4 linked regions of the Homo sapiens genome follow. The protein of the gene in region 2 purifies or fractionates together with the protein of the main gene of each other region. This does not show direct contact. Each region holds a gene or a part of one and is shown on either strand. Other genes may lie near its edges.

The links.
Region 1: the proteins of ARL13B (region 2) and FASTKD1 purify together in Homo sapiens (affinity purification with mass spectrometry; 3 studies listed by BioGRID and IntAct, with this or other methods). This does not show direct contact.
Region 3: the proteins of ARL13B (region 2) and ANKRD50 purify together in Homo sapiens (affinity purification with mass spectrometry; 4 studies listed by BioGRID and IntAct, with this or other methods). This does not show direct contact.
Region 4: the proteins of ARL13B (region 2) and IFT74 purify together in Homo sapiens (affinity purification with mass spectrometry; 4 studies listed by BioGRID and IntAct, with this or other methods). This does not show direct contact.

The regions. Positions count from the first base shown.
Region 1 is NC_000002.12:169,570,852-169,578,721, forward strand, and holds the start of FASTKD1 (FAST kinase domain-containing protein 1, mitochondrial), read right to left. Parts: upstream 3,015-7,870; 5' UTR 2,818-3,014; exon of another isoform or gene 2,145-2,817; intron 1,321-2,144; 5' UTR 1,179-1,320; coding exon 802-1,178; intron 318-801; exon of another isoform or gene 153-317; intron 1-152. UniProt on the Homo sapiens protein: Involved in the down-regulation of mitochondrial MT-ND3 mRNA levels which leads to decreased respiratory complex I abundance and activity.
Region 2 is NC_000003.12:94,039,134-94,046,157, reverse strand, and holds part of ARL13B (ADP-ribosylation factor-like protein 13B), read right to left. Parts: intron 6,279-7,024; coding exon 6,170-6,278; intron 3,144-6,169; coding exon 2,918-3,143; intron 1-2,917. UniProt on the Homo sapiens protein: Cilium-specific protein required to control the microtubule-based, ciliary axoneme structure. May act by maintaining the association between IFT subcomplexes A and B. Binds GTP but is not able to hydrolyze fit; the GTPase activity remains unclear.
Region 3 is NC_000004.12:124,709,709-124,717,064, reverse strand, and holds the start of ANKRD50 (ankyrin repeat domain-containing protein 50), read left to right. Parts: upstream 1-4,332; 5' UTR 4,333-4,607; exon of another isoform or gene 4,608-5,790; 5' UTR 5,791-6,553; coding exon 6,554-7,065; intron 7,066-7,356.
Region 4 is NC_000009.12:26,959,391-26,966,414, reverse strand, and holds part of IFT74 (intraflagellar transport protein 74 homolog), read right to left. Parts: intron 4,467-7,024; 5' UTR 4,448-4,466; coding exon 4,328-4,447; intron 1-4,327. UniProt on the Homo sapiens protein: Component of the intraflagellar transport (IFT) complex B: together with IFT81, forms a tubulin-binding module that specifically mediates transport of tubulin within the cilium. Binds beta-tubulin via its basic region. Required for ciliogenesis.

The sequences.
Region 1 (7,870 bases), on a different chromosome or scaffold from region 2:
TTTTAGTAGAGGCAGGGTTTCACCATGTTGGCCAGGCTGGTCTTGAACTCCTGACCTCAGGTGATCCACCCACCTCAGCCTCCCAAAGTGCTGGGATTACAAGTGTGAGTCACCACACCCGACTGGCATTAATCTTAAATCTAACTGCTTACCTACTATATCCTCATCTGCAGCCAACCACATTTTCACAAAACTCCACAATAATCCAATTTCAAATGCCCACAGTTAACAATAGTATTACAGTTGTTAAAGGAGAATTGCTTGAACCTGGGAGGCGGAGGTTGCAGTGAGCCAAGATTGTGCCACTGTACTCCAGCCTGGTGACAGAGCAAGACTCCGCCTCAAAACAAAACAAAACAAAACAAAAAAATTAGATTATCAGGAAAACTACTGGTGAAAAAAATTATTTTTCATTTTGAAGAGATTTTTAGACCTGGCACAGTGGCTCACGCCTGTAATCCCAGCATTTTGGGAGGCCGAGGCATGCGGATCACAAGGTCAGGAGATCAAGACCATCCTGGCTAACATGGTGAAACCCCGTCTCTACTAAAAATACAAAAAAATTAGCCGGGCGTGGTGGCAGGCGCCTGTAGTCCCATTGACTCGGAAGGCTGAGGCAGGAGAATGGCGTGAACCTGGGAGGCAGAGCTTGCAGTGAGCCGAGATCATGCCACTGCACTCCAGCCTGGGCGACAGAGACTCCTCAAAAATAAATAAATAAAATGAAAATAAAGAGATTTTTAGAAAATTAAAATGTAAACTATATAATCATTCCATAAAATATAAAAGTAAATTACTTACTGTTGTGTGACGTATAACACATTCACCAGGGTATCGTCATTCATTAATTTGAATTTATTTGTAGCTAAATTATGAAGAGTAAGAAATTGAGGATGGTCTCTGACATACTCAGCATTTTTTAACAGGCTGGTCTTCTGCTTTTGAAGCTTCCAAAGCATATCAAATGCACATCCCACTTGCTTTTCTGAAAGTATGGCTTTGTTTCTTTCAATAAAACCAAACATTTGCTCCTCATCTGTACACTTATTCATCTGAATAATTAGTGGTTCACAACTGATGGGTCGAAATTGAAACACTCTCCAGGAGAATGGACAAATAGCTCTTAGACGAAGCATATTTGTAACCAATGACTCTAGGAAAACAGGTGTTTTTTTCATTTATATCACAAGTTTTCTTAGGTAAACAAAACCATCTGCAACTAGTCGTCAGGTGCAATAAGCAGGGATACAAATAACAGTTTTTCCTTCATGTATTTTGCTTCCATTACAATGACTGTAAACGCATTCCAATGTACAGCTTCTATAAAAGAATTGGTTTAACATGGTTATGCTTACATCATTAATATCAAAATGATTCCAAAATTCAAATTAAAGTAATACATTTTTTCTGCATTAACTAAAGACTTTTTCTTAGTCTAAACCAGATAGCAGAATTTGATCAAAAAATAAATGTCCAGAAAAAGGGGCTTCTTTCTGCACCCCATTTTAAAAGTGTTTTAAATCTGACATTTACATAAAGTTTTCAAATTTACCATAAAAGGAAAAAAAAAGCCCACAAACTCAGAGCTGTCTTTTCGAAAAAGAGGAAAATTGTTTAAAATAAATAATCACCTTCAAAGTTTCTAAAAAGTGTAGGCATTAATTCAGAGCCATATATATTTATACATACATATATATATACTTTTTTTTTTTAATTTTTCAGAAGTATGGTCTCAGGTTTATTTGCTTTCAGGATAATTTCTTGCCCCTTTTTCTTGTGCCCTTAAAGAGCTCAAATAATTCCTTTCTTTAGAAAATAAATAAATAAAAGAAGTCATATAATTTAATCATTACTGGCCTTGGATAGGTTTTAACCAATGAACGACACAATTAAAGCACCAATCAAGAAATACTAAGAAATTAAGTAATGTTTCAAGTCATGCTGAAACAATAAAAGAACTAAAGATAATTATGAAAAAAGAATAATTTGTTTTAAAAATATGCTATAAATGTTTACATTTATAATTGAGAAGTAATGGTTAGAAAAGCAGGGACTAAAGTCATATAATCTAATATTTCTGCAACATGTTACCATTTACAAAGAACGTTTGAAACACATTATCTCATTAAATTCTCTCAGCTAACCTTCCAGGTTGATATTATTTCCATTTTACAGATAAGGCAAAATAGGTTCAAAAAGGTTTAAAAAATCCTTCTAGTACTAGTGAAGCAGGGACTACAACTCAGTTCTTTCCACTTGAACAGCTTCATTACACAAACAAATCAACGCTGTATCACTAAATTCATGTCTCAGACCCCTCTCTACGGCTATGCCAAACAGTCTGTTCACAAGAAAAAACGACGCGACAGTACAGGCTATTTTGTGGCAAGCAGTACAGCATCCTGACCTAAGCTGACCTGGGTCACAAACCTGCACAAGAAAACCCTGCACAAATCAAAGGTATCCTCAAGATACTATATTCATCCACTGAGCTGCTCAAAGTGGAGGCAGCTCAATGGTTAGCATAGAAAGGTGTCGAGTCCCCAGCTTTGCCCCAGCTGAATGACCTTAAGGAAGGAACTTAACTACAGGAAGGGCCTTGGGACCCTAAGGGGTATCTTCTGCGCCGGGCATAAAGGAGAGCTAAACAAATGAGTGAATGAATGGGGTCTCAGCCCTGCCCTAGTCCATCCGCACTTCAGAGAACCCAATATCCCGAAGGAAGCCTCCGTATCTCAACTGAACCCTATGTCCCCAGCCCGAAAACGTGCTGGGTGGGAAAAGAAAAATAGCCGCTGCCACACAGTCCCGACTTGCCAGCAAGGTTTTCCCTCAGCGCGCCGCAAATTTTCTGGAGGATCCTGGGGTTATGAAAGCTCAGAAGTCAGGGTTATTCCTGGTCCCAACACGGAACGAAACAGGCTCGGATGTCTCGCCCAACCCTCATATCTCAGGGTTTATAACCTTTCTTCGAGAGACATGACCTTTCCCATGAGACCTTGCCCCCAAACCAGGAAAAAATGCCCGGCAGGCGCAGCGTGCACTGCGGAAGTCACGCACTACATATCCCAGGGTGGGTCGCGGCGAGGTGGGTGAAATGGACGTCGCTCACGCATTTTGGGGGAATTCTGGGCATTGTAGTTCCTCATTGAGGGAGGCTCTAGCGCAGTACACAGCTTAAGCTGTTGAAGAAGATATAGGTCGTTTAGGTGATTCTCTACTATCTAAGGTTGTTCTCCTAGTCCTTGGAAGTCTACTACTTTTATAATATACACAAAAATATACTTAGGAAAATGAAATTTAAAAATGTAAACATGGAAAAGACACGTACAGATTTTTCTTATTATTTTTTAGCATATACGAAATAACTCTGTCGAGTAACTTTGAAAGTATGCAAACTCATACTCTCAGTTTCTGCACTTATGTCGTGGATAGGTACCAGTTCTCAGACCATATTTTTTTTTTACTTACCATGGTATTTTAATAGTCCCAAGATTTGACACTTGACACTTAAAAAAAAAATACCACTAATAAATAACCAAAGTGGAATGCTTACCAAAGTTACAACAGACATAATTTTCAGCTGATAATCACTACAACAAAGTAAGGCTCTAAAGGTACCAAACTGATATTTGTTGGAATATGCTGTGCAACTTTCTTTTTTTTATTTTATTTATTTATTTTTTTTATTGATCATTCTTGGGTGTTTCTCGCAGAGGGGGATTTGGCAGGGTCGTAGGACAATAGTGGAGGGAAGGTCAGCAGATAAACAAGTGAACAAAGGTCTCTGGTTTTCCTAGGCAGAGGACCCTGCGGCCTTCTGCAGTGTTTGTGTCCCTGAGTACTTGAGATTAGGGAGTGGTGATGACTCTTAAGGAGCATGCTGCCTTCAACCATCTGTTTAACAAAGCACATCTTGCACCGCCCTTAATCCATTTAACCCTGAGTGGACACAGCACATGTTTCAGAGAGCACAGGGTTGGGGGTAAGGTCATAGATCAACAGGATAAGAATTTTTCTTAGTACAGAACAAAATGAAAAGTCTCCCATGTCTACTTCTTTCTACACAGACACAGCAACTTTCCGATTTCTCAATCTTTTCCCCACCTTTCCCCCTTTTCTATTCCATAAAACCGCCATTGTCATCATGGCCCGTTCTCAATGAGCTGTTGGGTACACCTCCCAGACGGGGTGGTGGCCGGGCAGAGGGGCTCCTCACTTCCCAGTAGGGGTGGCCGGGCAGAGGCGCCCCTCACCTCCCGGACAGGGCGGCTGGCGGGGCGGGGGGCTGACCCCCCCACCTCCCTCCCGGACGGGGCGGCTGGCCGGGCGGGGGGCTGACCCCCCCACCTCCCTCCCGGGCAGGTCGGCTGGCCGGGCGGGGGGCTGACCGCCCCCACCTCCCTCCCGGGCGGGGCGGCTGGCTGGGCGGGGAGCTGACCGCCCCCACCTCCCTCCCGGACGGGGCGGCTGGCCGGGCGGGGGGCTGACCCCCCCACCTCCCTCCCGGGCGGGGCGGCTGGCCTGGCGGGGGCTGACCCCCACCTCCCTCCCGGAGAGGGTGGCTGCCGGGTGGAGACGCTCCTCACTTCCCTGACGGGGCGGCTGCTGGGCGGAGGGGCTCCTCACTTCTCAGACGGGGCGGCTGCCGGGCGGAGGGTCTCCTCACTTCTCAGACGGGGCGGCCGGGCAGAGACGGTCCTCACTTCCCAGACGGGGTCGCGGCCGGGCAGAGGTGCTCCTCACATCCCAGACGGGGCGGTGGGGCAGAGGCGCTCCCCACATCTCAGACGATGGGCGGCTGGGCAGAGACGCTCCTCACTTCCTAGATGGGATGGCGGCCAGGCAGAGACGCTCCTCACTTCCCAAACGGGGTGGCGGCCGGGCAGAGGCTGCAATCTCGGCACTTTGGGAGGCCAAGGCAGGCGGCTGGGAGGTGGAGGTTGTAGCGAGCCGAGATCACGCCACTGCACTTCAGCCTGGGCACCATTGAGCACTGAGTGAACGAGACTCCGTCTGCAATCCCGGCACCTCGGGAGGCCAAGGCTGGCGGATCACTCGCGGTTAGGAGCTGGAGACCAGCCCCGCCAACACAGCAAAACCCCATCTCCACCAAAAAAATACGAAAACCAGTCAGGCGTGGCAGCGCGCAGGCACTTGGCAGGCTGAGGCAGGAGAATCAGGCAGGGAGGTTGCAGTGAGCCGAGATGGCAGCAGCACAGTCCAGCTTCGGCTCGGCATCAGAGGGAGACCGTGGAAAGAGAGGGAGAGGGAGACCGTGAGGGAGAGGGAGAGGGAGACCGTGGGGAGAGGGAGAGGGAGAGGGAGAGGGGGCAACTTTCTTATTGTGTGGGTTACAGAGGAGACTCTTGGTTTATGTGGTCATGGTTATTGTCATAAAACCAGTTTTAGCACAATTTTCTTTTCTTTTCTTTTTTGAGACAGGGTCTCACTCTGTCTCCCAGGTTGGAGTGCAGTAGTGCAATCTCCGCTCACTACAACCTCCGCCTCTTGGGTATAAGCGATTCTCCTGCCTCAACCTCCCGAGTAGCTGGGACTACAGGTGCACACCACCATAGCTGGCTAACTTTTTGTAGTTTTGGTAGCGACAGGGTTTCCCCACGTTGCCCAGGGTGGTCTCGAACTCCTGGGCCCAAGCAATCCACCCACCTCAGCCTCCCAAAGTGCTTGGGATTAGAGGCATGAACCACCTTGCCCAGCCTAAATTTTCAATAGTTCTGACAGTCTATGCAAAATGTTGAGGCATGCTCACACTGGAAAAAAATTAAAACTTGAAGACTTCCTTCTAGAATGTCCAGTAACCAATATATATTTATTCTGACATTTCTGAAAACAGAGCAAAACGAAATTGAATAGGTGCTGGCATTCATCTGATGTATCAGGTTTATTTTATGACTGACTAGTCTTAATACTCCTAGATGTCGGGGTGTATAGGCAGCAGAACATTTTAAATTTGTTCAAGTAGAATATGGGAAAAATTAGAGTCAAATGAGAATACATTTTTTGTCTACTGTCAGTAACCTTCAATTAACCATGAAGACATAGGGAATGAATGGTTAAGCCATCAAAACTAAAATAGTTGTTTGTTTGTTTTTTCGAGATGGAGTCTCAGTCTGTCACCCAGCCTGGAGGGCAGTGGCCCAATCTCAGCACACTGCAATCTCCACCTCCTGGGTTCAAGCAATTCTTCTGCCTCAACCTCCCAAGTAGCTGGGACTACAGGCATGCACCACCATGCCCAGCTAATTTTTGTATTTTTAGTAGAGAAGGTGTTTCACCATGTTGGTCAAGCTGGTCTCAAACTCCTGACCTCAAGTGATCCCCCAGCCTTGGCCTCTCAAAGTACTTGGATGACAGGCGTGAGCCACTGCACCTGGCCTGATTGGATTTCTTCACTAAAAACTTGATTGGTCATTTGACTTCCTTTATCAGGAGGCTGCTAAGACATAGAAAGTCTCTGATAGCTGGGTCTTAAAAAAAAAAGAAAAAAGAAAAAAAGAAGTTAACTTTCGTTTCAAGTCTTGTAAAATTTCCTAGCTTTCTTAGGTTGCCAATATTTACATTGGGGAATACGGTCTACTTCACTTTTTGGTTTGGAGATGAACATTTACTCATTAAAAAATTGTTTCCCTCAACCAAAGAGCCGTGGTTTTGAGATCTGATACCAATGATGTCCTCGTGAGTTTTATTGCTCTTCTTCTCAAGTTTTTTTTCTCAATTAAAGGTACAGCCAATCCCATGGCTTGCTTGGTGATTTGTAGCATCTCTGCAATGCACCAAGGGGTATTTTTTCCATCATCTTCGGGATTGCGAATTATAGATCTCAATGTGTGGAAATAGCCACCTGCTTCTTGATGTCTGCAGTGCAATCGCAAGAGCAATAGGTTCAGGACCTATTCCTATGTTTTCTAGGTCTTCTAGACTTAGCCACTGACACTGGTTTACTTTATCAACTTCATCCTCTTAAGAGGTCACAAAGTAGGCAGAGTTAGAAAGCAGCAACAGCACATCACATCTCTGTGAGTAGCACCAAGGAGGGTGCACTCTGAAAACTGTTGCTTTAGCCAAGCCATAAAAATTACAACACAGGCTGGGTGTGGTGGCTCACGCCTGTAATCCCAGCACTTTGGGAGGCTGAGGTGGATGGATCACAAGGCCAGGAGTTTGAGACCAGCCTGGTCAATATGGTGAAACCCCATCTCTACTAAAAAAAATACAAAAATTAGCCGGGCATGGTAGTGCATGCCTGAAGTCCCAGCTACTTGGGAGGCTGAAGCAGAAGAATCAATTGAACCCGGGAGGCGGAGGTTGCAGTGAGCCGAGATGGCACCATTGCACTCCAGCCTGGGCGACAGAGCAAGACTCTGTCTCAACAACGACAACAAAAAAATTACACCACAATACATTTTAATATGAAATAAATTCTACTCCTACTAATTAGTGTTACTTTCATCTTAGCTTCCAATTTTTGCATTAATATTTACATCAGCCAGGCCAGGAACCGTGGCTCACACCTGTAATCCCAGCAGTTTGGGAGGCTGAAGCAGGCAGATCACCTGAGGTTGGGAGTTCTAGACCAGCCTGGCCAACACGGCAAAACCCTGTCTCTACTGAAAAATACAAAAAAAAAAAAAAATTAGCCGGGAGTGGTGACACGCACCTGTAGTCCCAGCTACTCAGGAGGCTAAGGCAGAAGAATCGCTTGAACCTGGGAGGCGGAGGTTGCAGTGAGCCGAGATTGCACCACTGCACTTCAGCCTGGGCAACAGAGTGAGACTCTGTCTCAAAAAAAAAAAAAAATTACATCAGTCAAACATGATCCTTAGTCAAAAATATGTCATTAACAAAA
Region 2 (7,024 bases):
TATACTATAAATATGTGCAGTTTGTTGTAAGTCAATTATACCTCAATGAAACTCATTAAAATTACCATATTTTGGGGATCTATTTCTAGAATCTCTATTGTGTTTTATTGATCTCTGTGTCTATCCTCTAGTCAATACTATACTGTTATGATCACTGTGGTTTTATTTTATAGTATGTCTTTTTTTTTTCTTTTTTTTTTTTTTTTTGTGATGGAGTCTTGCTCTGTTGCCCAGGCTGGAGTGCAGTGGCACCATCTCGGCTCACTGCAAGCTCTGCCTCCCAGGTTCACGCCATTTTCCTGCCTCAGCCTCCTGAGTAGCTGGGACCACAGGCGCCCACCACCACGCCTGGCTAATTTTTTGGATTTTTAGTAGAGACGGGGTCTCTACTGTGGTCTCGATCTCCTGTCCTCGTGATCCTCCCGCCTCAGCCTCCCAAAGTGTCGGGATTACAGGTATGAGCCACTGTGCCCGGCCACTACTTTATAGTATGTCTTAAATTGGGTAGTATGAGTCTTTAACCTTGATCTTTCTTCAAAATTGTTTTGGGTATTCCAGTCCTTTACTTTTACATATATTTTATAATGAACTTGCCTATATCTACAAAGACTCATGCTGGGATTTGTTTGGAATTGCCTTAAATCTACAGATCAGTTGGGGGCTCTGGCATTTTAACTCTTTTTTTTCTTTCTTTCTTTTTTTTTTTTTTTAGTATTTATTGATCATTCTTGGGTGTTTCTCGGAGAGGGGGATGTGGCACGGTCATAGGATAATAGTGGAGAGAAGGTCAGCAGATAAACACGTGAACAAAGGTCTCTGGTTTTCCTAGGCAGAGCTCCCTGCAGCCTTCCGCAGTGTTTGTGTCCCTGGGTACTTCAGACTAGGGAGTGGTGACGACTCTTAATGAGCATGCTGCCTTCAAGCATCTGTTTAACAAAGCACATCTTGCACCGCCCTTAATCCATTTAACCCTGAGTTGACACAGCACGTTTCAGAGAGCACAGGGTTGGGGGTAAGGTTATAGATTAACAGCATCCCAAGGCAGAAGAATTTTTCTTAGTACAGAACAAAATGGAGTCTTCTATGTCTACTTCTTTCTACACAGACACAGTAACCATCTGATCTCTCTTTCTTTTCCCCACATTTCCCCCTTTTCTTTTCGACAAAACCGCCATCGTCATCATGGCCCGTTCTTGATGGTCACTGTCTCTTCGGAGCTGTTGGGTACACCTCCCAGATGCGGCGGCGGGCAGAGGCGCTCCTCACCTCCCCGACGAGGGGCGGGCAGGCAGAGACGCTCCTCACTTCCCAGACGGGGCGGCCGGGCAGAGGCGCTCCCCACTTCCCAGACGGCGCGGCCGGGCAGAGGCGCTCCTCACTTCCCATTCGGGGCGGCCGGGCAGAGGCGCTCCTCACCTCCCAGACGATGGGTGGCCGGGCAGAGGCGCTCCTCACTTCCCAGACGATGGGCAGCCGGGCAGAGGCACTCCTCACCTACCCGATGGGGCAGCCGGGCAGAGGCGCTCCCCACTTCCCAGACAGGGTGGCGGCCGGGCAGAGACGCTCCTCACCTCCCAGATGCGGTGGCGGCCAGGCAGAGGCGCTCCTCACCTCCCAGATGGAGCGGCCAGGCAGAAGCGCTCCTCACTTCCCAGACGGGGCAGCCAGGCAGAGGCGCTCCCCACTTCCCAGACGGGGTGGCCGGGCAGAGGCGCTCCTCACTTCCCATTCAGGGCAGCCGGGCAGAGGCACTCCCCACTTCCTAGATGGGGTGGCGGCTGGGCAGAGACGCTCCTCACATCCCAGACGGGGTGGCGGCCGGGCAGAGGCGCTCCTCACCTCCCAGACGGGGCGGCCGGGCAGAGGCGCTCCTCACTTCCCAGACAGGGCGGCCGGCCAGGGGCGCTCCTCACATCCCAGATGATGGGCGGCCAGGCAGAGACACTCCTCACTTCCTAGACAGGGTGGCAGCCAGGCAGAGGCGCTCCACACTTCCCAGATGGGGCAGCCGGGCAGAGGGGCTCCTCACATCCCAGACGATGGGCGGCCAGGCAGAGACGCTGCTCACTTCCTAGACGGGGTGGCGGGCAGGCAGAGGCTGTAATCTTAGCACTTTGGGAGGCCAAGGCAGGCGGCTGGGAGGTGGAGGTTGTAGCGAGCCGAGATCACGCCACTGCACTCCAGCCTGAGCAACATTGAGCGTTGAGTGAGCGAGACTCCGTCTGCAATCCCAGCACCTCGGGAGGCCGAGGTGGGCGGATCACCCAAGGCCAGGAGCTGGAGACCAGATCGGTCAACATGGCGAAACCCCATCTCCACCAAAAATACAAAAACCAGTCAGGAGTGGCGGCGCGTGCCTGGAATCCCAGGCACTCGGCAGGCTAAGGCAGGAGAATCACAGGAGCCCGAGGCAGGGAGGTTGCAGTGAGCCGAGATCATGGCAGTACAGTCCAGGCTCGGCAAGAGAGGGAGACTGTAGAAAGAAAGAAAGAAAGAAAGGGGAGGGGGGAGGGAAGGAGAGGGAGGGGGAGGGGAGGAGGGGGAGGGGGAGAGGGGGAGGGGGAGGGAGAGAGGGGAAGAGGGAGAGGGGAAGAGGGAGGGGGGAGGGGGAGGAGGGGGAGGGCTATTCCAAGGATTCTTGAGAGCTATGCTGTATCCCAAATTTATGAAAATAAAAATGGAATTTTCTGCTGAAATCCTTATAAGTTACAAAGGACCACATTTTAAGTCATGGAAAAACAGGTTAGGAACAAACTGAATAATAAAAGACCTTGAGAAAATCATGGTAAATATGGCATTTGAAGACAGAAAAATATTGAAGTACTCGTTTGTAAAAACAAACATAAAAAATGAGATGAAGTATAAGTTTTATTTATATATACATAAGATAATTACTTTAAATAACTAGATTTATTACCTGATTCCAATGATGGCCGGTCTGTCTCATCTTCATTCTTTAACTGCTGTGTTAATGCCTCCTTATAATTTTCTACTAGTCCAAATTCATTATTTTTTTGGCCATTGTGATTAACCTGGCCTTGTGTCTCTATTTGCTCATGCTCCATTTTATGTTTCAGGTGGCAGCCATCACTGTCTTTCTCCATTTTTTGGTTTTTTTTCTCTCTTTCAAGTTTTCCTTCATTCTAACAAAAAATAAAATACATTATCTTTACTATGATGGTTTTATCTAAGATAGTTTTAAGGGAGAGGAAATCAAATACCTTAACAGGATTCTGTAACTTCAAGGACACTGTGAGACTTCTATTTTAAAAATGATTTCATGAATACATCATTAAAAGATGCTAAATGTCAAACATTCAGTAAAACAGAAAGTATAACAAAAGCAAACAAATATTACCAGTAATTCCACAATCTAGAGATGACTACTATTCATCTGTATTATTCCGTATATAATCTGTTCAGTATATAATCACTAAGAGATGATTTTCTCTGCCAACCCCCACACATACATACCTATATCATGTACAGACATACATCACCCAGAAACATACATAAATATATGTATCTATATATACTTATGTATTTGTTGTTTAAACAAAAAAGAATTGAAGTTTTTATTGAAGAATATACATTTCTTTCCATGCCAATGAATATATAAAGTGCTCAGAACAGTGCCTTACACATAGTAAATGCTACATAAATGTTAGATACAATTATTTTCATCAATTATTATTTTGAATGTTTATAGCATACCAATTCTGTATCAATGAACAAAGTATTTCCAATTTTTCACTATTTTAAAAAACAGAATCATCCTAATAGCTTTTTTTTAATTTTTTTAGATTAAATTGCTAACAGTAGAACTGTTGAGTCAGTGGGTAGGCAAATTTAAAAATGTCACATATAGTCACAAACTTCCCTTCAGAAAAAATGAATCAATGAACCTCAGGCAAAGGGTTGGGAGAGTGATTTTTTTCTACATCATATTCAATACCACATATCATGATTGACCTTTTACATCTCTGCCGTATTAATACATATTTTTATTTAACTTAGTGTTATTTTCATTTGAGTTTAAGTTAAAATTTTTATTGCCAGCAAAAATGAACTATTATTGAATTATTTTATTTTATTTTTTTTGAGATGGAGTCTCGCTCTGTCGCCCAGGCTGGAGTGCAGTGGCACGATCTCGGCTCACTGCAACCTCCACCCCTCCAGGTTTAAGCAATTCTCTGCCTCAGCCTCCGGAGTAGCTGGGATTATAGGTTCGTGCCACGCCTGGCTAATTTTTTGTATTTTTAGCAGAGACAGGGTTTCACCGTCTTGGCCAGGCTGGTCTTGAACTCCAACCACCTCGGCCTCCCAAAGTGCTGGGATTACAGGCGTGAGCCACCGTGCCTGGCCACTTATTGACATTTTTAATTTTTTTTTAGGAAACTGCCTTTGGTAACCCAATGCCCACTTTTCTATTAGATTCTCATTATTTTCATAGTAATTTGTAAGAGTTCTTTTGTGCATACGTGTCACTAGGACTAGTCACAGAGTCACATAAGACTATGTGTTCTATTTCTCACTAGAGTTTACTTCTTTTCATTTTTGCTTTTTAACTTTGTAGAATAGCTCTTTAAAAATTGGGTAGTATAAGATCTATCCACCTTTTTCCTTTATGATTTGTGGCTTGCTTGTCCTGCTTTGAAATTTTTTCCTCCTCCAAGCACATATAAAGACTTATCTATATTATCTACTAGTAACTTGAAGACTTTCACTTTTTAAAACGTATTTAAGTTTTTGATACTTTTGGAATTTAACTGGGTATACAATATTCAATAATTTTCCTTTTTCTAAATGGTTATTAAGTTGTTCTATTATTTTTTTCTCTCAGATTTGAAATGTTATCTTTATCTTGTACTAAAATGCTCATACATAAATAGGTTTATTAATATTCGTTCCATTGATCTGTCTGTCTCTTCTGGAACCAATACCTTCCAATATCTCACCATTTTAATTATCTGCAGTAATAATAAAAAAAAATGTTAGGTGCTTCTGTACCAAGAAACATGCTAAAAAAGTTTTGTGGGGAAAAAAAGAGAAAATCTGTATGGTTAAAAAAAAAAAACTATAGCTAATTTGCTTTTATTTCTTTACTGGCCATCTTCTTGAAATTGTAGTTTCAAAGCGTTAAGTGTACTTTCCCCATGCCACTTATTAATTTGGGAACTTTCTATATGTGATATATACTATGTCGTACACCACTATTATTCACTTCTATACATTGTGGGAAATACGGTGCTGGGAGAAGCACTAGAGCCTTCTACACAATTTATACCCATGGTACTATAAAATAATTAGCCATTATTTATAAAGCAAGCCTTATTATACACAGAGAATAATTGTTGTTTCAAAGTAAAAAGTACAACTTGACCTCTTCTCTCTCAATATTTTTAAAAGAACATAAAACAAAACTTGACAAATATAATATCTGATAGAATGGAGACAAAAAAAAAAAAAAACCTTCCAGGTAGGACCAGGAAGTCAGCCTAAGGTTTAGGAAGCAATGCCTCAGAAGAGGCATCGCTGCTGCCAGCCATAAAAGCAGAGCCAATGCAAACTCTGGACATGAGCAGAAAATGAAAACAAAAACACAGACGCGCACACACACAACCCCTTAACGTCTTCATAATTAAAATCTACAAATTAATGTTGGTAAAATTTCTGATTTAAAATGGAAATAAATGATATTCAGATATAGGAGAATTTATTGCAGTTTCAAACATCCTTAAGTATCCTGGAAAAATAGAAAATTGTTTATGTACCCTAATGCATTCTAAGTAAATATTGCAGATGGACAGTAACAGCAATACAGAAACACAGAAAATGTAAATAAGAGTAAATATGTTATTACTATATGAAATAAATGACAGAATAGATTTGTCAACACAGCAACTATAATAATTGCTACAGTCAAATTTATTTATTGTCATTTAATTCTGAAGTCATATTCCCCCTTTCACACTAGATTCAAAGGTAATTTAAGAGTAAGAAAAAGCAGTAAACCTTTAATCAGTCTCTCATGTTTAATTTCTTATAGAAATAATCTCTCAGAAGAAACACATCTGTTTCCCTGCCTCCTTTCCCAACTTTCCACCTTCTTTTCCAAGTTCCAACTTATAACTTAAGATACAAAAATTACATTTGCCATCATTCATACCTCAATGATTACAGATGCTATTGGCTGGAAAGGATTCGTTGGTTCTGGGTCCAACTCAGCCAGACCACTGGTTCCATCGAGTTCAGCCTGCTCCTGTTCATTTTGTTTTCTATCGTTTGAGGAAAAATAATTGAAATTTCCTTTGAGAAAGTGCTGAACCATGTTAAAGAAAACTGCAATAGGTATAAGGCTATTACATGTAGTAATTTAAACATCTGGACATGGTTTTGAATTACTGAGAGCATTTCAAAAATCCTTATGCAGGTAAGAGGCTGCTTCCTCCCATGTAAAGACTAATCATTTCAATTAAAAAAATGCTGATAAAAATGACATTTCCTATGAGTGACTTCTTAATATCAACAGTGCAATTATTCTTCCATGTGCCAAGGGTATTACTGATCAACTTATTAATTACCCTCCAAAATCAATGCTGTCCTCTTTACTGGTGTTAACAAATAGTAATTATTCTTTTTTTTTTTTTTTTTTTTTGAGTCGGAGTCTTGCATTCTCGCCCAGGCTGGAGTGCATTGGCACCATCTCGGCTCACTGCAAGCTCCACCTCCCGGGTTCACGCCATTCTCCTGCCTCAGCCTCCTGAGTAGCTGGGACTACAGGCGCCCGCCACCAGGCCTGGCTAATTTTTTGTATTTTTAGTAGAGACGGGGTTTCACCCTATTAGCCAGGATGGTCTCGATCTCCTGACCCTGTGATCTGCCTGCCTCTGCCTCCCAAAGTGCTGGGATTACAGGTGTGAGCCACCGCGCCCAGCCAAATAGTAATTATTCTTATTAATTCTTTTCTTAAGGGCTAAGTCTTCTCTTACAAAACTAGGAAAACATTCCTTCAACTCAACCT
Region 3 (7,356 bases), on a different chromosome or scaffold from region 2:
GAAAAAATACTATGTGGTTCTACAAAACAGAGAGTCTGAGGACAATAAGTGAAATAGTATCTCTCATTTACTTGGGAATCTGTCAAAGGAATAAATTATCTGCAGCAAGGCAAGTGATTAATTTATCTAATGATTCACCAAAATCCAGTCAAAGGATGCATAGGGGACATAATTGAGAAAGTTTACCTTCACATATGACACTGAATTATTTTCAAATTAATATAATTACATGTAATTATTGCTATTATTGCGTGTGACCATATGACTGACACAGGACTCGGGGATATGAGTTATTACTAAGCCAGTTTCATCAGTTCTTGGATATTTAAAATATAGTTCAAAGAATACTTCATGGAGGGTATTTATTGGCATCTGAGATTTGATGAAAGGGTGAGATTTGATGAAAAGGTGACTTCGTGGTTGGTGTAGGGAGGTCATTTAAACTACATATAGACTCATAGAAGAAAAGGTAGGAAAAAGTGGTTCTGGGAATCCAATAGAGGGACATGTTAGATAATCCTAATTTGCTTCTTTAAATTTCTTGCTGCATATTTGAGGTGAAAGAGAATATGAATTTCAGATCCATGCTGTCATGTGTACTGTTGGTGTAATTTTGGGGTCTACTAAGAGCTTTTGCTCTATCTAGGAGCATGGGAAAAAGTGAAGGGTAAAGGTGAAGCGTTGTAACTAGCCACCTAATAACCATAGCCAATGAGTCTTTATTTCCCTTCACTGGTAATTGTGCAAAATAAATCTTATTTGGGGATTTGTTTAACTCTTTGAAGAAAAGGCCTATATCTTACACATTTTATAAGCAACAGCTATTTTTAGGCTTGTTTTCAAGAACAGGAATGAATACAGCTGGCAACAATTACTTTTAAAATGTAAGGCTTAAATAAGCATTCTTTTAAAAGGGTATTTAAGAGGGTAGCCACAGCTGGACGTTCCTATCATTATGCCTCCCATGTCAATCAAAGTTTTTCTATAGTCTAGGTCCACATCAAGTCCAGTGAACATACTAACAAAATGTGTATTTATGTAAACATAACAATGTTATTAATAGTAGCATTACAATAATGGTTTGGTGGACCTTCGTTATTTCCAGCTTCTGCCATGGTCTCCTCAAATAGTATATGAGATGAAATAAACAGAGTTCTTTAAATTTGTGGGGAAATCTGAAAGGCTGCCAGTAATAACTCTTTTCCAGATTCAAAGTAACTATCCTTTGAAGGACAGTATGCAGACTGCTAGTTGAAAAAATAAAATATAGCTTGATATGGGTGGTTGATACATAAACATATACATATACACACATACACATATACATACATATACATATACATATACATATACATATACATATACATATACATATACATATACATATACATATAATATATACCAAATCCTGGGCTTGGTAGTAACCAGAGAAACTCTCAAGGCTGCTGATCCTGCTAGACACGTGGCATAGCAGTTCAGTGTGCCCTGGCTTGCTGCAGCTGCCTTCCACGTGCAAGAAGCCACTTCTGAGAATCAGTAGTAAATGGAGAAAATTACATGTGAGGTATATCTGAAATATGTGAAATAGAGACTGACTTATCCTGTAGTAGAGTATAGCAAGTAGGCTGAACTCTTTTTGTATAATGCAGAGTTCTTTAAATTTGTGGCATAACCTGAAAGACTGCCAAGCATAAAACATCACTTTGTAAATAAACCTGAGTGACTTACACAAGTTAATTTAGAGGACTAAAATGAGTCCTCTAAATTTTCACAGCCTTTCATGTAAAATCATTAGAACTCTAAAGTCATAGATTTCAAATTTTGTAGCTTTCAGGTATTGCTATAATTATTACAGAACTTGCAAATATAAAGAAATTCAAATTTACCTCTACCAAACAAGGAACTGAATGTACTCGATGATGAAAACACAGACATTATAAAAGACGTAATTTTTGAAACTTAGAATTGTGCTTTGGAATATCTCAACTTGTGGAATCTTTTGATGGAGCTGTTGCTTTTAATTGGATGAAACTATATTTTGTATCTAAATGGATTAAAATTGAGATGACATAATTTTGTAGTATTTAAACTTGATTGATACCATCAAAATAAACGTACATTTTCAAGACTTATATAATGAGCTTTGTTTTGTAAAAACACTTGTTGCACAATATAACTGAGTGAGGTTTAAAAAAATACAACAGCTAGGAAAAGATTTGAACTGAAAAATTTGTACATTTCAATATAGAGAAATTAGAATGGAGAATATATTTTATTTAGCAGAGTGTGTTTTGAGCTTAATACGTATCTCACCACTTAATTTTCCATTTAAAACATTATAGTCTTCAGAGAAGCATTCGTTAAAGCTGTCAGTAATTTCAAATTTATGTGAAACTGTGATGATTTCAGGAAATTTTATGAACAAATTAAAAATAAGAAAGGCCACATTGAAAAAAATTGCATTCTTTGGAAAAATGCGAGTATCTGGTATTGGAGAAAATACAACTAAGAAACTGATTAAAGTATGTGAATATGTACCAAGAGTAAGTATTCTGCTTATGCCACGTTTAACATTTAGGTAATTGATAAAAAGAAGTTTCATAAAATTATATATGTGTGTATATATACATATACGTCACTGTTAAGGGTTTTCTATTAAAAAAAGCAAAAAGCAATAAAAATAAAATGTGAAATAAATTTTAAAGCAAAAAACAAAATTCTAAATAGGTCTGAAGATTAATTACAGCTTAGTTACAGCTGATGTTATTTAAAACAGCATTCCATGATACTGCTTAGTTATCATAAATGAGGCCCACTAAACAAAAAGTTTCGGTAACTTCTCTACTGGGCAGAAATTATTTTAATTATTGTGTTAGCAAACGGCTTAATAGAAATGATAATGTGATATACATTATTTCTCATTTAAATTTTCCTCTAAACATAAAATTTTACAACCATGAAACTGAAGGAGTCAACCTGTTCAATGACTATAAAGCTGCGTGGCAAACAAGCTAAGTGGGAATTAAAACAGCTTAGGCAAAAATAAATAAAAATTGTAGCTTTTTAAAAATCAATTTTCATCCCCCTAATTCTGGAGAATTTATACTCTGCCTCTTTTGCTTGTGTTTTAGGAAAGAAGCCCAAAATTCAGGGTACATGAATTAAAATTAAATACTAAGATCAGTAAACCTCAATTGGCACGAATAAACAATATGAAAGAGTAAGCACAAACACGATCTATTTGTTTATCCATCTTTCTTATTGTGATAGCTATACTATGAAATTTCTAAAACTAGATGGGAGACTGGCTTAATATTTTGGCAAATAACCACATGCAAGTTAATGAGGAATGGGAAATAGAGCACTCTGGATTTTAGCATAAACAATTAAAATAAAAAATGCTACATTTCCTATTCCATCAGTTGACGGTATACTTATTTTCCCGGGAGAAATTTGGAATCTAAGCAACTCAGGTCCAGTAAGTGCAAACAACTGACATGCTTAGTCCAACAGGCCCCTGTGAGCAGGCCCTCTAGGGCATTTCCTGACGCCACATGACCAAGACCTTCCCCCCTAGTGGACGCTGCGGGTGATCAAGTGGCCCTGAGGAGCAGGGGCCTGAGACCCAGTCAAGCCTGCTGTCAACCTCCATCTGATGGAGGCCACGTCCTTTTCATGAGGCTGGTAGGAATGTCGCTGTATACCCCCACTATTTCTATTTTCGCAACATTCTTCCCAGTCTTTTCCTTCCTTCTCTTCGTCCCAGCCAAAGTAAAAGCATCCCTGGAATTTAATGGACTGAAAGGAGACCGGACGACTGAGGGGTAGAACGGGGCCCGAAGTGGCTTTGGAAGCAACGGGGTTAAGGGAGAGGCAAAAGGGTTGAGCAGAGAGAGGCAAGAGGCAATCTCCCCCTACCCAACTGCCCCTCCCAGGAGCAGATACGGCACCAACAGCCGGCGAGTCCCTCCGGCCTGGAAGACAAAGGAAGGATCAGGGCCCAGTGGTGACGGGGAGGGTGGGGGCAACGACTCGCGTGAGCTCGGAGACGTGAGAACGCAGCCCCCGCCCCGTTCTCCGCCTCCCCTGAGAAAGGCGGGGCCCCCACGCCGCCCCGAGACAGGTCTCCCCGCCGCGCCGGCAGCGGGTCCCAGGCGGCCGCACACGCCCAGGCACGGGATGCTGCGGGAGAGCGCGGTGGGGGAGGGGAAGGACGCGGAGGCGGAGCCGGCGGGCAAAGAAAGGCCGAGCGGCGGGGCGGGGGCGGGGGCGGGGGCGGGGTCTGGGCTGGGCGGGCGGGGCGGAGCCGGCCGGCCGGGGGCTGCCTGAGACAGTTACTGCCCTGACGGCGGCGGCGGCGGCGGTTGGCCGGTGGGGGCTGGGGCGAGCACGACCGATTCTGCTGGGAAAGCTGGAACTGGCAGCCGCCGGGGGCCAAGAGGAGGATCCGGAGCTGGGAGCGTGCCCCGGGCCCGGCGGAGGAGGCGGCTGCAGTTGGAGTGGAGTCTTGGGAGCGCTGCTGGCAGCGACTTCTCAGCGAAGCAAGTGTCTGAGACTGAGAGTCCCTAACAGCGGCAGCGGCGGCCACGGCGGCGGCTGGGGCCGAGGTAACCGGGGGGCGGCGGCGGCGGTGGAAGCGAGGCCCCTCCCTCGGGTTGGAAGCTGGGAGGCCGAGGCCGTGGCTTGGACCTGACCCAACCACCCACCCTCTCCGGCCTCGAGCCCCAGATTTGCCCTCTTCCCTCGCACCGCCGTCGGCCGGGTGGGAGCGGGAGCGGGGCATGGGGCGGGAGCGCAGAGGCGGAAGCCGACCGGGAGGCGACCCCTCGTCTGGGATTGGCAAGGACCTCAGTCACCCCCTCCCCCTTCAAAAGACACACCCCAATCTCGGTGCGGGGCGGGGTGCAGAGGCGCTCCCAGCCTCTGGAAGGGCAGACCTCGGTGTGGAGGCTGCACCTTCGCTCGTGGCCTCTCTGAGGTGGCTCCCCTGTGGCTCCTCTGGGCGGTTCCAACCCAAGGTGGTGCCCGGCGCTGGGAATCCCGGAGTTCCTTTTGTCTGTCAGCTGAAACTGGAGGCCGGACCTGTGGGCAGACACCCACCAGCACCGAAGCACTCTACTCTTTATCCCTTTCCTGTCTTGGAAGGAATTTCTCTCTAGCAGCCTTTTCTCCGGCCAGACTGGTAGATTTTATCCCTGACCTCCATCCTTGGCCCAGAGGAAGGAAGGATTCACATTTTACTTGTGTTTGCTTTATCATTCTTATAAGAACAGTCATCCCCCATCGTTTTTGTTTTTTTTTTTTAAACCGTTTCCCATCCAGCTGCAACCCTGGTAATCTTCCCCTAGATTTTTGCACATTATCAACAAAGAAGTGTGGCTGGAGGAGTAGACAGTCCTTGACTGACTGGACTGTGTAAGTTAATAGAGCTTCCTTAGCTGGCGCTGTTCTACCAGTCTACTGTGAATGAGCGTTTTGCCTGGAGTTAAGGGTGTTACTGTATGTGCGTAAAGTTTCTCCCCCCCTCCTTTGCTATGGTGAAGTTGCAAAAATCTTGGGTAACTTGATTAAAATGTGGCTGTTTGGGAAGCATAACAATGAGGAAGAAAAATGCAGAAGGGAGAATGTGATTATTTCAGTGGTTTTTGTCCAACTTTTTGAAAGTGCCAAAGGTGAAGTACGTGGATTTTTGAGATTACGTTAACTGGTACACTGCAACCTTTATTGTCCTTAATAAGTTTTTAACATATGATATTTTGCACTGAGGTATTTTTGTTTGTTTTATTTTAGTTACTTGTGGAAATTGTTGATTACCCGGACGTCTTAAAACCAAGAAACCTGTGAACAGGTTCATTAAGAATCTGCTGTCTTGAAAAATGCATATTATGAATGCTTTGAATTAAGAAGGTGTTAACAGTGGTTGTCATTTCTGCCACATAAGAGACTATAATCTGAAACAGTTCCTGGCAGTTGCCCAGATGCCTGAAACTGGCACGATCTAGTACTCTTGAGTGATCATCCTTCAACGAGAAATACAGAGCTACTTACATACTGTACCTCATACCGTATAAATGTAATCTCTCTGATGCCATTTAATGCAGTGGACCTCTTTTCAGAATCTAATTGTCAGATGCAGAATTAACACTTGGAATCTGGAGAAGCATTTTGTACAAATTGAAAGATTGGGTTTTTTCTTTAGTTTTCCACATGTATTGTCTCATCTCTGTTCTTGAAACATCCACAATCACATAAACTCCAGTTATAACCATGGAGTTATGTGACTCATTAAAATTTAGGAAAAGTGTTGCTGAGCTGTGGAATCAGGCGTTTCTCCCTCAGTTCAACAACTAATACATAGACTGCTGATCAAGAATAAGGAACCAAATAAAGTCATGCACGTTCTGTTGACAGAGGAACTCTGTGGCTGTTGAATTTTACTGTAACTAGTTACTCTGTCTTCAGAGTCAACTTAATATACAAGTTATGTCATAATGGATGGAAAGACCTGTGTTGATGTATCCAGACTCTAGCAAATGAAGATAAAAAACCCGTTATGACTAATCCTTGGGAAGAGAAAGTCTGCAAAATGGCTCAAACCAGTTTACTGCAAGGGAAGCAGTTTTACTGTAGGGAGTGGGTTTTCCACAAGCTTCAGCATTGCCTCCAGGAGAAAAGTAACTGCTGCAATAGTGCTGTCAATGCACCATCACTTGTAATGAATTCTGGGAATAATGCTAGTGGTGTCTCTGGAAAGGGAGCTGCCTGGGGTGTGTTGTTGGTAGGAGGGCCTGGCAGTGGCAAGACGGCCCTATGTACTGAACTCTTATGGCCAAGTTCACCTGCAAGTTTGCAGAGAGGTTTACATCGCCAAGCTTTGGCCTTTCATTTCTGCAAAGCCCAGGACTCTGATACTTTGTGTGTTGGAGGGTTTATTAGAGGTCTAGTAGCCCAGATCTGCCGCAGTGGACTACTCCAAGGATATGAGGACAAGCTAAGGGATCCAGCAGTCCAAAGCCTCTTACAGCCTGGGGAGTGCGAGAGAAACCCAGCCGAAGCATTTAAAAGGTAACAATAAAAATGTCATGGTGTTCAGATTTCTATGCTGAAATTAAATTAATTTTTAGTTGTAGTTTTTTGTTTTAACTTTGTGGGTTACTTTTACTGGTGCTGTACATTTGGCCTTAATCTGAAGTTATGAGTATACCTGTTTACTTTGAATATCAAAGGAAGTAAAATTTAGGTTTTGGTATTGCACAGCATATGGATTAAAATGGATTAAAAGTGTATCTTAATTTTACTTAATAACATAATGTTACTTACATTGCCTATAAATGGTAAGGGAAATTTGTTCTTATG
Region 4 (7,024 bases), on a different chromosome or scaffold from region 2:
AGAAATGCAAATCAAAACTACAGTGAGATATCATCTCACTCCAGTTAAAACGACTTTTATCCAAAAGAAAGGCAATAGCAAATGCTGACAAATATATAAAGAAAAGGGAACCTTTGTACAGTGTTGGGGGGAATGTAAGTTAGTATAACTACTATGGAGAACAGTATGGAAGTTCCTCAAAAAACTAAAAATAGAACTATCATATGATCCAGCAATCCCACTGCAAAAGGAAAGAAATCATTATTTCAAAAAGATACCTGCATTCCTATGTTTATCACACTACTTGCCACAATAGCGAATATATGAAAAAAAAACCTGACTGTCCATCAATGGAGATGGAGGGCTACGTAAAGAAAATGTGGTATACATGTATATACATATATATACACACACACATATACACATATATATATATACACATACTATGAAACACTACTCTGCCATAATAAAGAAATCATGTCTTTTGCAGCAATATGGTTGGAACCAGAGGCCATGATCCTAAGTGAAACAATTCAGAAAGAGAAAGTCAAATACCGCATGTTCTCACTTATAAGTGGGAGCTAAACAATGGGTACATACGGACATACAGAGTGAGATAACAGACACTAAAGATTACAAAAGATGAGTGGGAGGAAGGTGAGGGTTGCTAAATTACATATTGGGTACAGTGTTCACTATTCAGGTGATGGGTACACTAAAAGCCCACACTTCATCATTACATAATATATGCATGTAAGACAACTGACCTACCCCATGAATACATACAAATTTTAAAATTTTACAAATAAACAGATAACGTGCCTGGCAAATAGTAGGTGGCCAATAAATGTCAGATTCTTTTTATAAATATTTAATTATCAATTTTTACTGGAATAAAAGAAAAAGATACCCTTACTATCCTATGTATGAAGACTTCAGAAAAATTATTTCAGTCTAAGTTGATGACGATGTCCTAATATTATTACCTGAAACTCTAGAAAAAAAATCTGAAAACTTTAGGAAAATCTGACTTTAACAAAATTATTCCCTCCAAAAAATGCTGCTCTTCTTATGAGTTAACCATAGGACCCAACATTATCTGTAGTTTGCACTTAGCCTACTGTAGGAGGTTGAGTATTGGCCCTCTGCACCTTCTCAGTTGAAATCACCTGTGTGAAAATCAGATAAATTTATGGACATTTTTGTCTATTCATTTATTTCCATTTCAATTCTATGTATTTATAAATTTATGTTTTCTATGTTAAATTGATATCACTTTTAAACTTTTGTTAAAGTATATTATTTTCTGAAATATCTTGAAAGTAGTTTGTAATGACTATCTAACAGCCTTTATAGGGATATACATATCATTATTTAAGATTCACCTGTTGTAAGTCTTCTAGGTTGTTTCCCAATTTTTACATTATAATGATAACGAAAATGTAATAATTATCTTTACAGGATATCCTTCTGCTTAGAATATCAACTCATAAACTTCATCTAACTTTTCCTCATATGATGTGTTTCTCTTATTCACTATTTATGACACACTCTCTTATATTAAGCTCTTTAACATTTACTAGAGTTTACCTCCAGGTGCCGTGGCAATCAGAATATTGTTTCACTCATTGTCTATAACATATTTTACATTAGAGTACTGTACTTTTTCTTATTTTTGTGGTATTGTTCTAGATGAGTTTTAGAATAGTTTTATAATATTACCCCTAGCATCAAAAGAAATGTCATGAAATTTTGATTGGACATAAGGCTTGTGGTCTTAATACAGAAAGAGCACTTAAAAATTAGTAAAGTTTACAACAAATGGAAGAACATTCCATGCTCACGGGTAGGAAGAATCAATATCATGAAAATGGCCATACTGCCCAAGGTAATTTATAGATTCAATGCCATCCCCATCAAGCTACCAATGACTTTCTTCACAGAATTGGAAAAAACTACTTTAAAGTTCATATGGAACCAAAAAAGAGCCCGCATCGCCAAGTCAATACTAAGCCAAAAGAACAAAGCTGGAGGCATCACACTACCTGACTTCAAACTATACTACAAGGCTACAGTAACCAAAACAGCATGGTACTGGTACCAAAACAGAGATATAGATCAATGGAACAGAACAGAGCCCTCAGAAATAACGCCGTATATCTACAACTATCTGATCTTTGACAAACCTGAGAAAAACAAGCAATGGGGAAAGGATTCCCTATTTAATAAATGGTGCTGGGAAAACTGGCTAGCCATATGTAGAAAGCTGAAACTGGATCCCTTCCTTACACCTTATACAAAAATCAATTCAAGATGGATTAAAGACTTAAACGTTAGACCTAAAACCATAAAAACCCTAGAAGAAAACCTAGGCATTACCATTCAGGACATAGGCATGGGCAAGGACTTCATGTCTAAAACACCAAAAGCAATGGCAACAAAAGCCAAAATTGACAAATGGGATCTCATTAAACTAAAGAGCTTCTGCACAGCAAAAGAAACTACCATCAGAGTGAACACGCAACCTACAAAATGGGAGAACATTTTCGCAACCTACTCATCTGACAAAGGGCTAATATCCAGAATCTATCTACAATGAACTCCAACAAATTTACAAGAAAAAAACAAACAACCCCATCAAAAAGTGGGCGAAAGACATCAACCGACACTTCCCAAAAGAAGACATTTATGCAGCCAAAAAACACATGAAACAATGCTCATCATCACTGGCCATCAGAGAAATGCAAGTCAAAACCACAATGAGACACCATCTCACACCAGTTAGAATGGCGATCATTAAAAAGTCAGGAAACAACAGGTGCTGGAGAGGATGTGGAGAAATAGGAACACTTTTACACTGTTGGTGGGACTGTAAACTAGTTCAACCATTGTGGAAGTCAGTGTGGCGATTCCTCAGGGATCTAGAACTGGAAATACCATTTGACCCAGCCATCCCATTACTGGGTATATACCCAAAGGACTATAAATCATGCTGCTATAAAGACACATGCACACGTATGTTTATTGCGGCATTATTCACAATAGCAAAGACTTGGAACCAACCCAAATGTCCAACAATGATAGACTGGATTAAGAAAATGTGGCACATATACACCATGGAATACCATGCAATCATAAAAAATGATGAGTTCATGTCCTTTGTAGGGACATGGATGAAATTGGAAATCATCATTCTCAGTAAACTACCGCAAGAACAAAAAACCAAACACCGCATATTCTCACTCATAGGTGGGAATTGAACAATGAGATCACATGGACACAGGAAGGGGAATATCACACTCTGGGGACTGTTGTGGGGTGCGGGGAGAGAGGAGGGATAGCATCGGGAGATACACCTAATGCTAGATGACGAGTTAGTGGGTGCAGCACACCAGCATGGCACATGTATACATATGTAACTAACCTGCACAATGTGCACATGTACCCTAAAACTTAAAGTATAACAAAAAAATAAAAATAAAAAAAAGAAAAAAAGAAAAAAAAAAAAATTAGTAAAGTTTACCTTTTAATTTTAAGATTCTGATCCTATATATGGTATATATATTATAAATGTTTTTACCAGTTGTCATTTCTAATTTTTTATGGTGTTTTATTTTTTGTAAATTCAGATATATAATAAAAATATTTTCCTTTTCAGTACTTGTTATTTCTGTCATGTTTAGAAAGCCTAGCCCATATCAAGTTTATACAGAATACTTGCCAACATTTTCCTCTACTACATTTATGGTTTCATTTTTGAAATACCAAGTTTCTAAGCTATGTAGAATTCTGATAAAAGGTATAAGAGAGGATTAAAAATACTTTTAAACAAATGGTTTAACAATTATTGGAATGTTCTATTGAATGCTCCATGTTTTGCCAACTAATTTGAAACACACATTAATCATTAACTAAATTCTTATATGCTTGATTCTATTTGAGGTCTATTCCATTTCATTTTATTCTGGCCCCAATACACTATTCAACTAAAATTATTGCAGCTTTAAATTGAGTATCTGCAGGAGCAGGCATCTTCTTCCCAGAGTGTCTTTCAAACACTCTTCCACATTTACATTTCCAGATGCTTTCCAAAAAACAAAACAAACATGTTTAATAATATGCTTATGAAATAAAGAAACAACAAAGTAGAATCTCTTATTACAGAGGGGATTTCCAACTTCTACCACAATATATGCACAAGCATTCAACAGATTTTTGAGACAGTCTCAAAAACTCAAAAACTGGGGTGCAGTGGCATGATCAGAGTTCACTGAAGCCCCAGTCTCCTGGACTCAAGTGGTCCTCCCACCTTGGCCTCCCAAAGTAAATAGATTTGTTTCAAACTTACTGCAGTTGCCACTCGAATATTTCCTGATAGGGGTCGTATCCCAGAAGGAGGCCTTCCTGTTAACCCAACTCCACCTCTTGAAACAGGGCGAGCTGCTGAAGATTTGTGATTGCTGGCCATTGTTTCTTCACTTTAATCGCTGTTTGGAAACAATAAATAGTTCAATCCTTTGATGTCTTCTCTAGCAAGACAATAATGACCCATCATACCCTTACATTTAATTCACAACAATTGTTCTTGCAAACTGCCGTTCTGTGTACCACTACAAGGCTAATTTTGTTCAAATATGACATCGTGCTCCATTTACAACTATGAGATTGTTTCTTGCAACATTCCTTCCTCATCTTTCTATTATCTTACCAAAATGCAAGCCCCTCTATTATCTATTTCTTTAGTATTCTCATCCCATACTCTGGTAAATTTTCTCTCCCATCATAGCCAACATCTTTCTTTGCCCCTAATCCTTTCTCTGCACTTTCTGGTCCATGATTAACTCTTATATTCTGAATCTTGTTACAAATACTTTCTATTTTCTTAACTTTAACAGAATCTTGATTTCCCCTGAGAGTAACACTTTCGGTAGTCCAAGTGTTTTAGCTTCCTGTCCCACAATTTTAAAGAAAAGGAGGTGGCACTTTTCTTGCTCCTCAGGGTCACTTTCAAAACATTCTTCCACACCTTTAAAAAAATTAACAAGAGGCCAGGCGCAGTGGCAAACGCGTGTAACCCCAGCACTTTGGGAGGCCAAGGCAGGTGGATCATGAGGTCAGCAGATGGAGACCATCCTGGCTAACACAGGGAAACCCCGTCTCTACTAAAAATACAAAAAATTAGCTGGGCGTGGTGGCGGGTGCCTGTAGTACCAGCTACTCAGGAGGCCGAGGCAGGAGAACGGCATGAACCTGGGAAGCAGAGTTTGCAGTGAGCCGAGATTGCGCTACTGCACTCCAGCCTGGGCGACACAGCGAGACTCCATCCCCCCACCCAAAAAAAAAAAAAAAAAACAAGATTCACTTCTTCTGAGGATCTGGGAATGCAACAATATTGCCTTGATCTTTCCTGGTTGCTGGTAATTAGTGACTTCCTAATCTCTCCTCTATCTTTACTAAAGTCTTTTGTACCTAGTTCACAGCTTCTCTATTCCAATCTCACCATCACCCTGGATGACTTCCATCTAGATACTAGATCCAATACCTAACACTCCAGCTTCACAGTTCCCTGACCTCAACTTTAGCAATGATCTTAACTCCATTTCAGTAATTTATAGCCATGGCGAGACATGGAGCTTGTCATCATCTGGAATTGCTTCACCTCAAACATCTTAATTGAAATACTCTATTCTCTGGTCTTCTCCTCTCCTACCCTTTTCTCATCTTCATTCTGCTACACCTGCCTTTAAACCATTTCCTTAATTCACTCATTCTCTCCCAGTTTATCAGCCCTCTCCTTTATTCATCAGAATATAACATTATTTAAAATTCTGTCTCATAATTTAGAGTAGTAGTTTTCAAATTGTTGGTCACATCCGTTAGTAAGTTCTGAAAACAATTTTGTAGGTTATGACCAAGATACTTAAACGTGAAATAAAATTTAAACAAAAAGAGCTCACTGAAAATATGAAGGGTAAACATTGTTTCAGTAAATTTTTGTTTCAGCTATATTTACATAAATTTACACATATGTGTTTACTGGGCTACAATATAAAAATGTATGTCCTATTGTAGGTCATATAAAATAGTTATGAAGATACTTATCTAGACAAAGAATATGGAGAAAAAGAGAATAGTGCCCAAGATTCTGTCCTGAGGAACATCAATACATACAGATTACACACAAGAGGAAAATCTAGTATGAGAGACTGAAAATTAAGGCCCAGAAAGCAAAGAAAAAAACCAGGAGTGTGTGTCAGAGACGCCAAGAGAAGGCAGGAATCTGAGCCATGCCATTTACGTTGGAAATTCAAGTAAGATGAAAACTGAAATGTCCAATGGAGTCCCCATTCAAGAAGTCACTAGTGATACCTTGACAAGGGTGTTTAAGAACTCTCCTCCTTCTCTCAAGAAATTAGTGTCTCATGAGCACTATCAACTAATTTGTATCCTTGAACTATTCTCCAGCCCATCTGGCAAAATCAGAAACCCTTCTCTACATCCAATCTGAAGTGCTGAACATTGCTGATGGAAATCATACAACTGTACAGACTGGGGTACTGCAAAGTGATAGTCACAAATCTTAGCTGGACCCTCATTTCAGAAATGATTTATCCTTGTTAAGATACTTCTCTACTTGATGATTCTCACCCTTAACTACTTTTCTATTTAACCTCTGTTCCTGCCACTCTCAGCAGATGACTCATTTAAAAAAATTACAACTTGAACTCCATCACCTTTGGGGCACATAAACTTCTCTACATCCATCCTGCCCTCCAGTCTCAACAGCCATTCCTTCTCTCATTCAAGATCAATCTTACTCTGATTTACCCTTGATCCCATCTTTTTTGTGGCATTAACCTCACTGCTACCAATTATCTTTAAACTTTCTCCTTTCCTTCAGTCTGTTACCATGTTCAATTCTTTCCTACCTTCAAAAACTTATTTCTTGATCCTGCAACCACCTCTATCTAACTGTCCCATACATCCTTCCCTTATGCAGCCAAATTCCTAAGAATAGCTTATATCCAGCCGGGCGCGGTGGCTC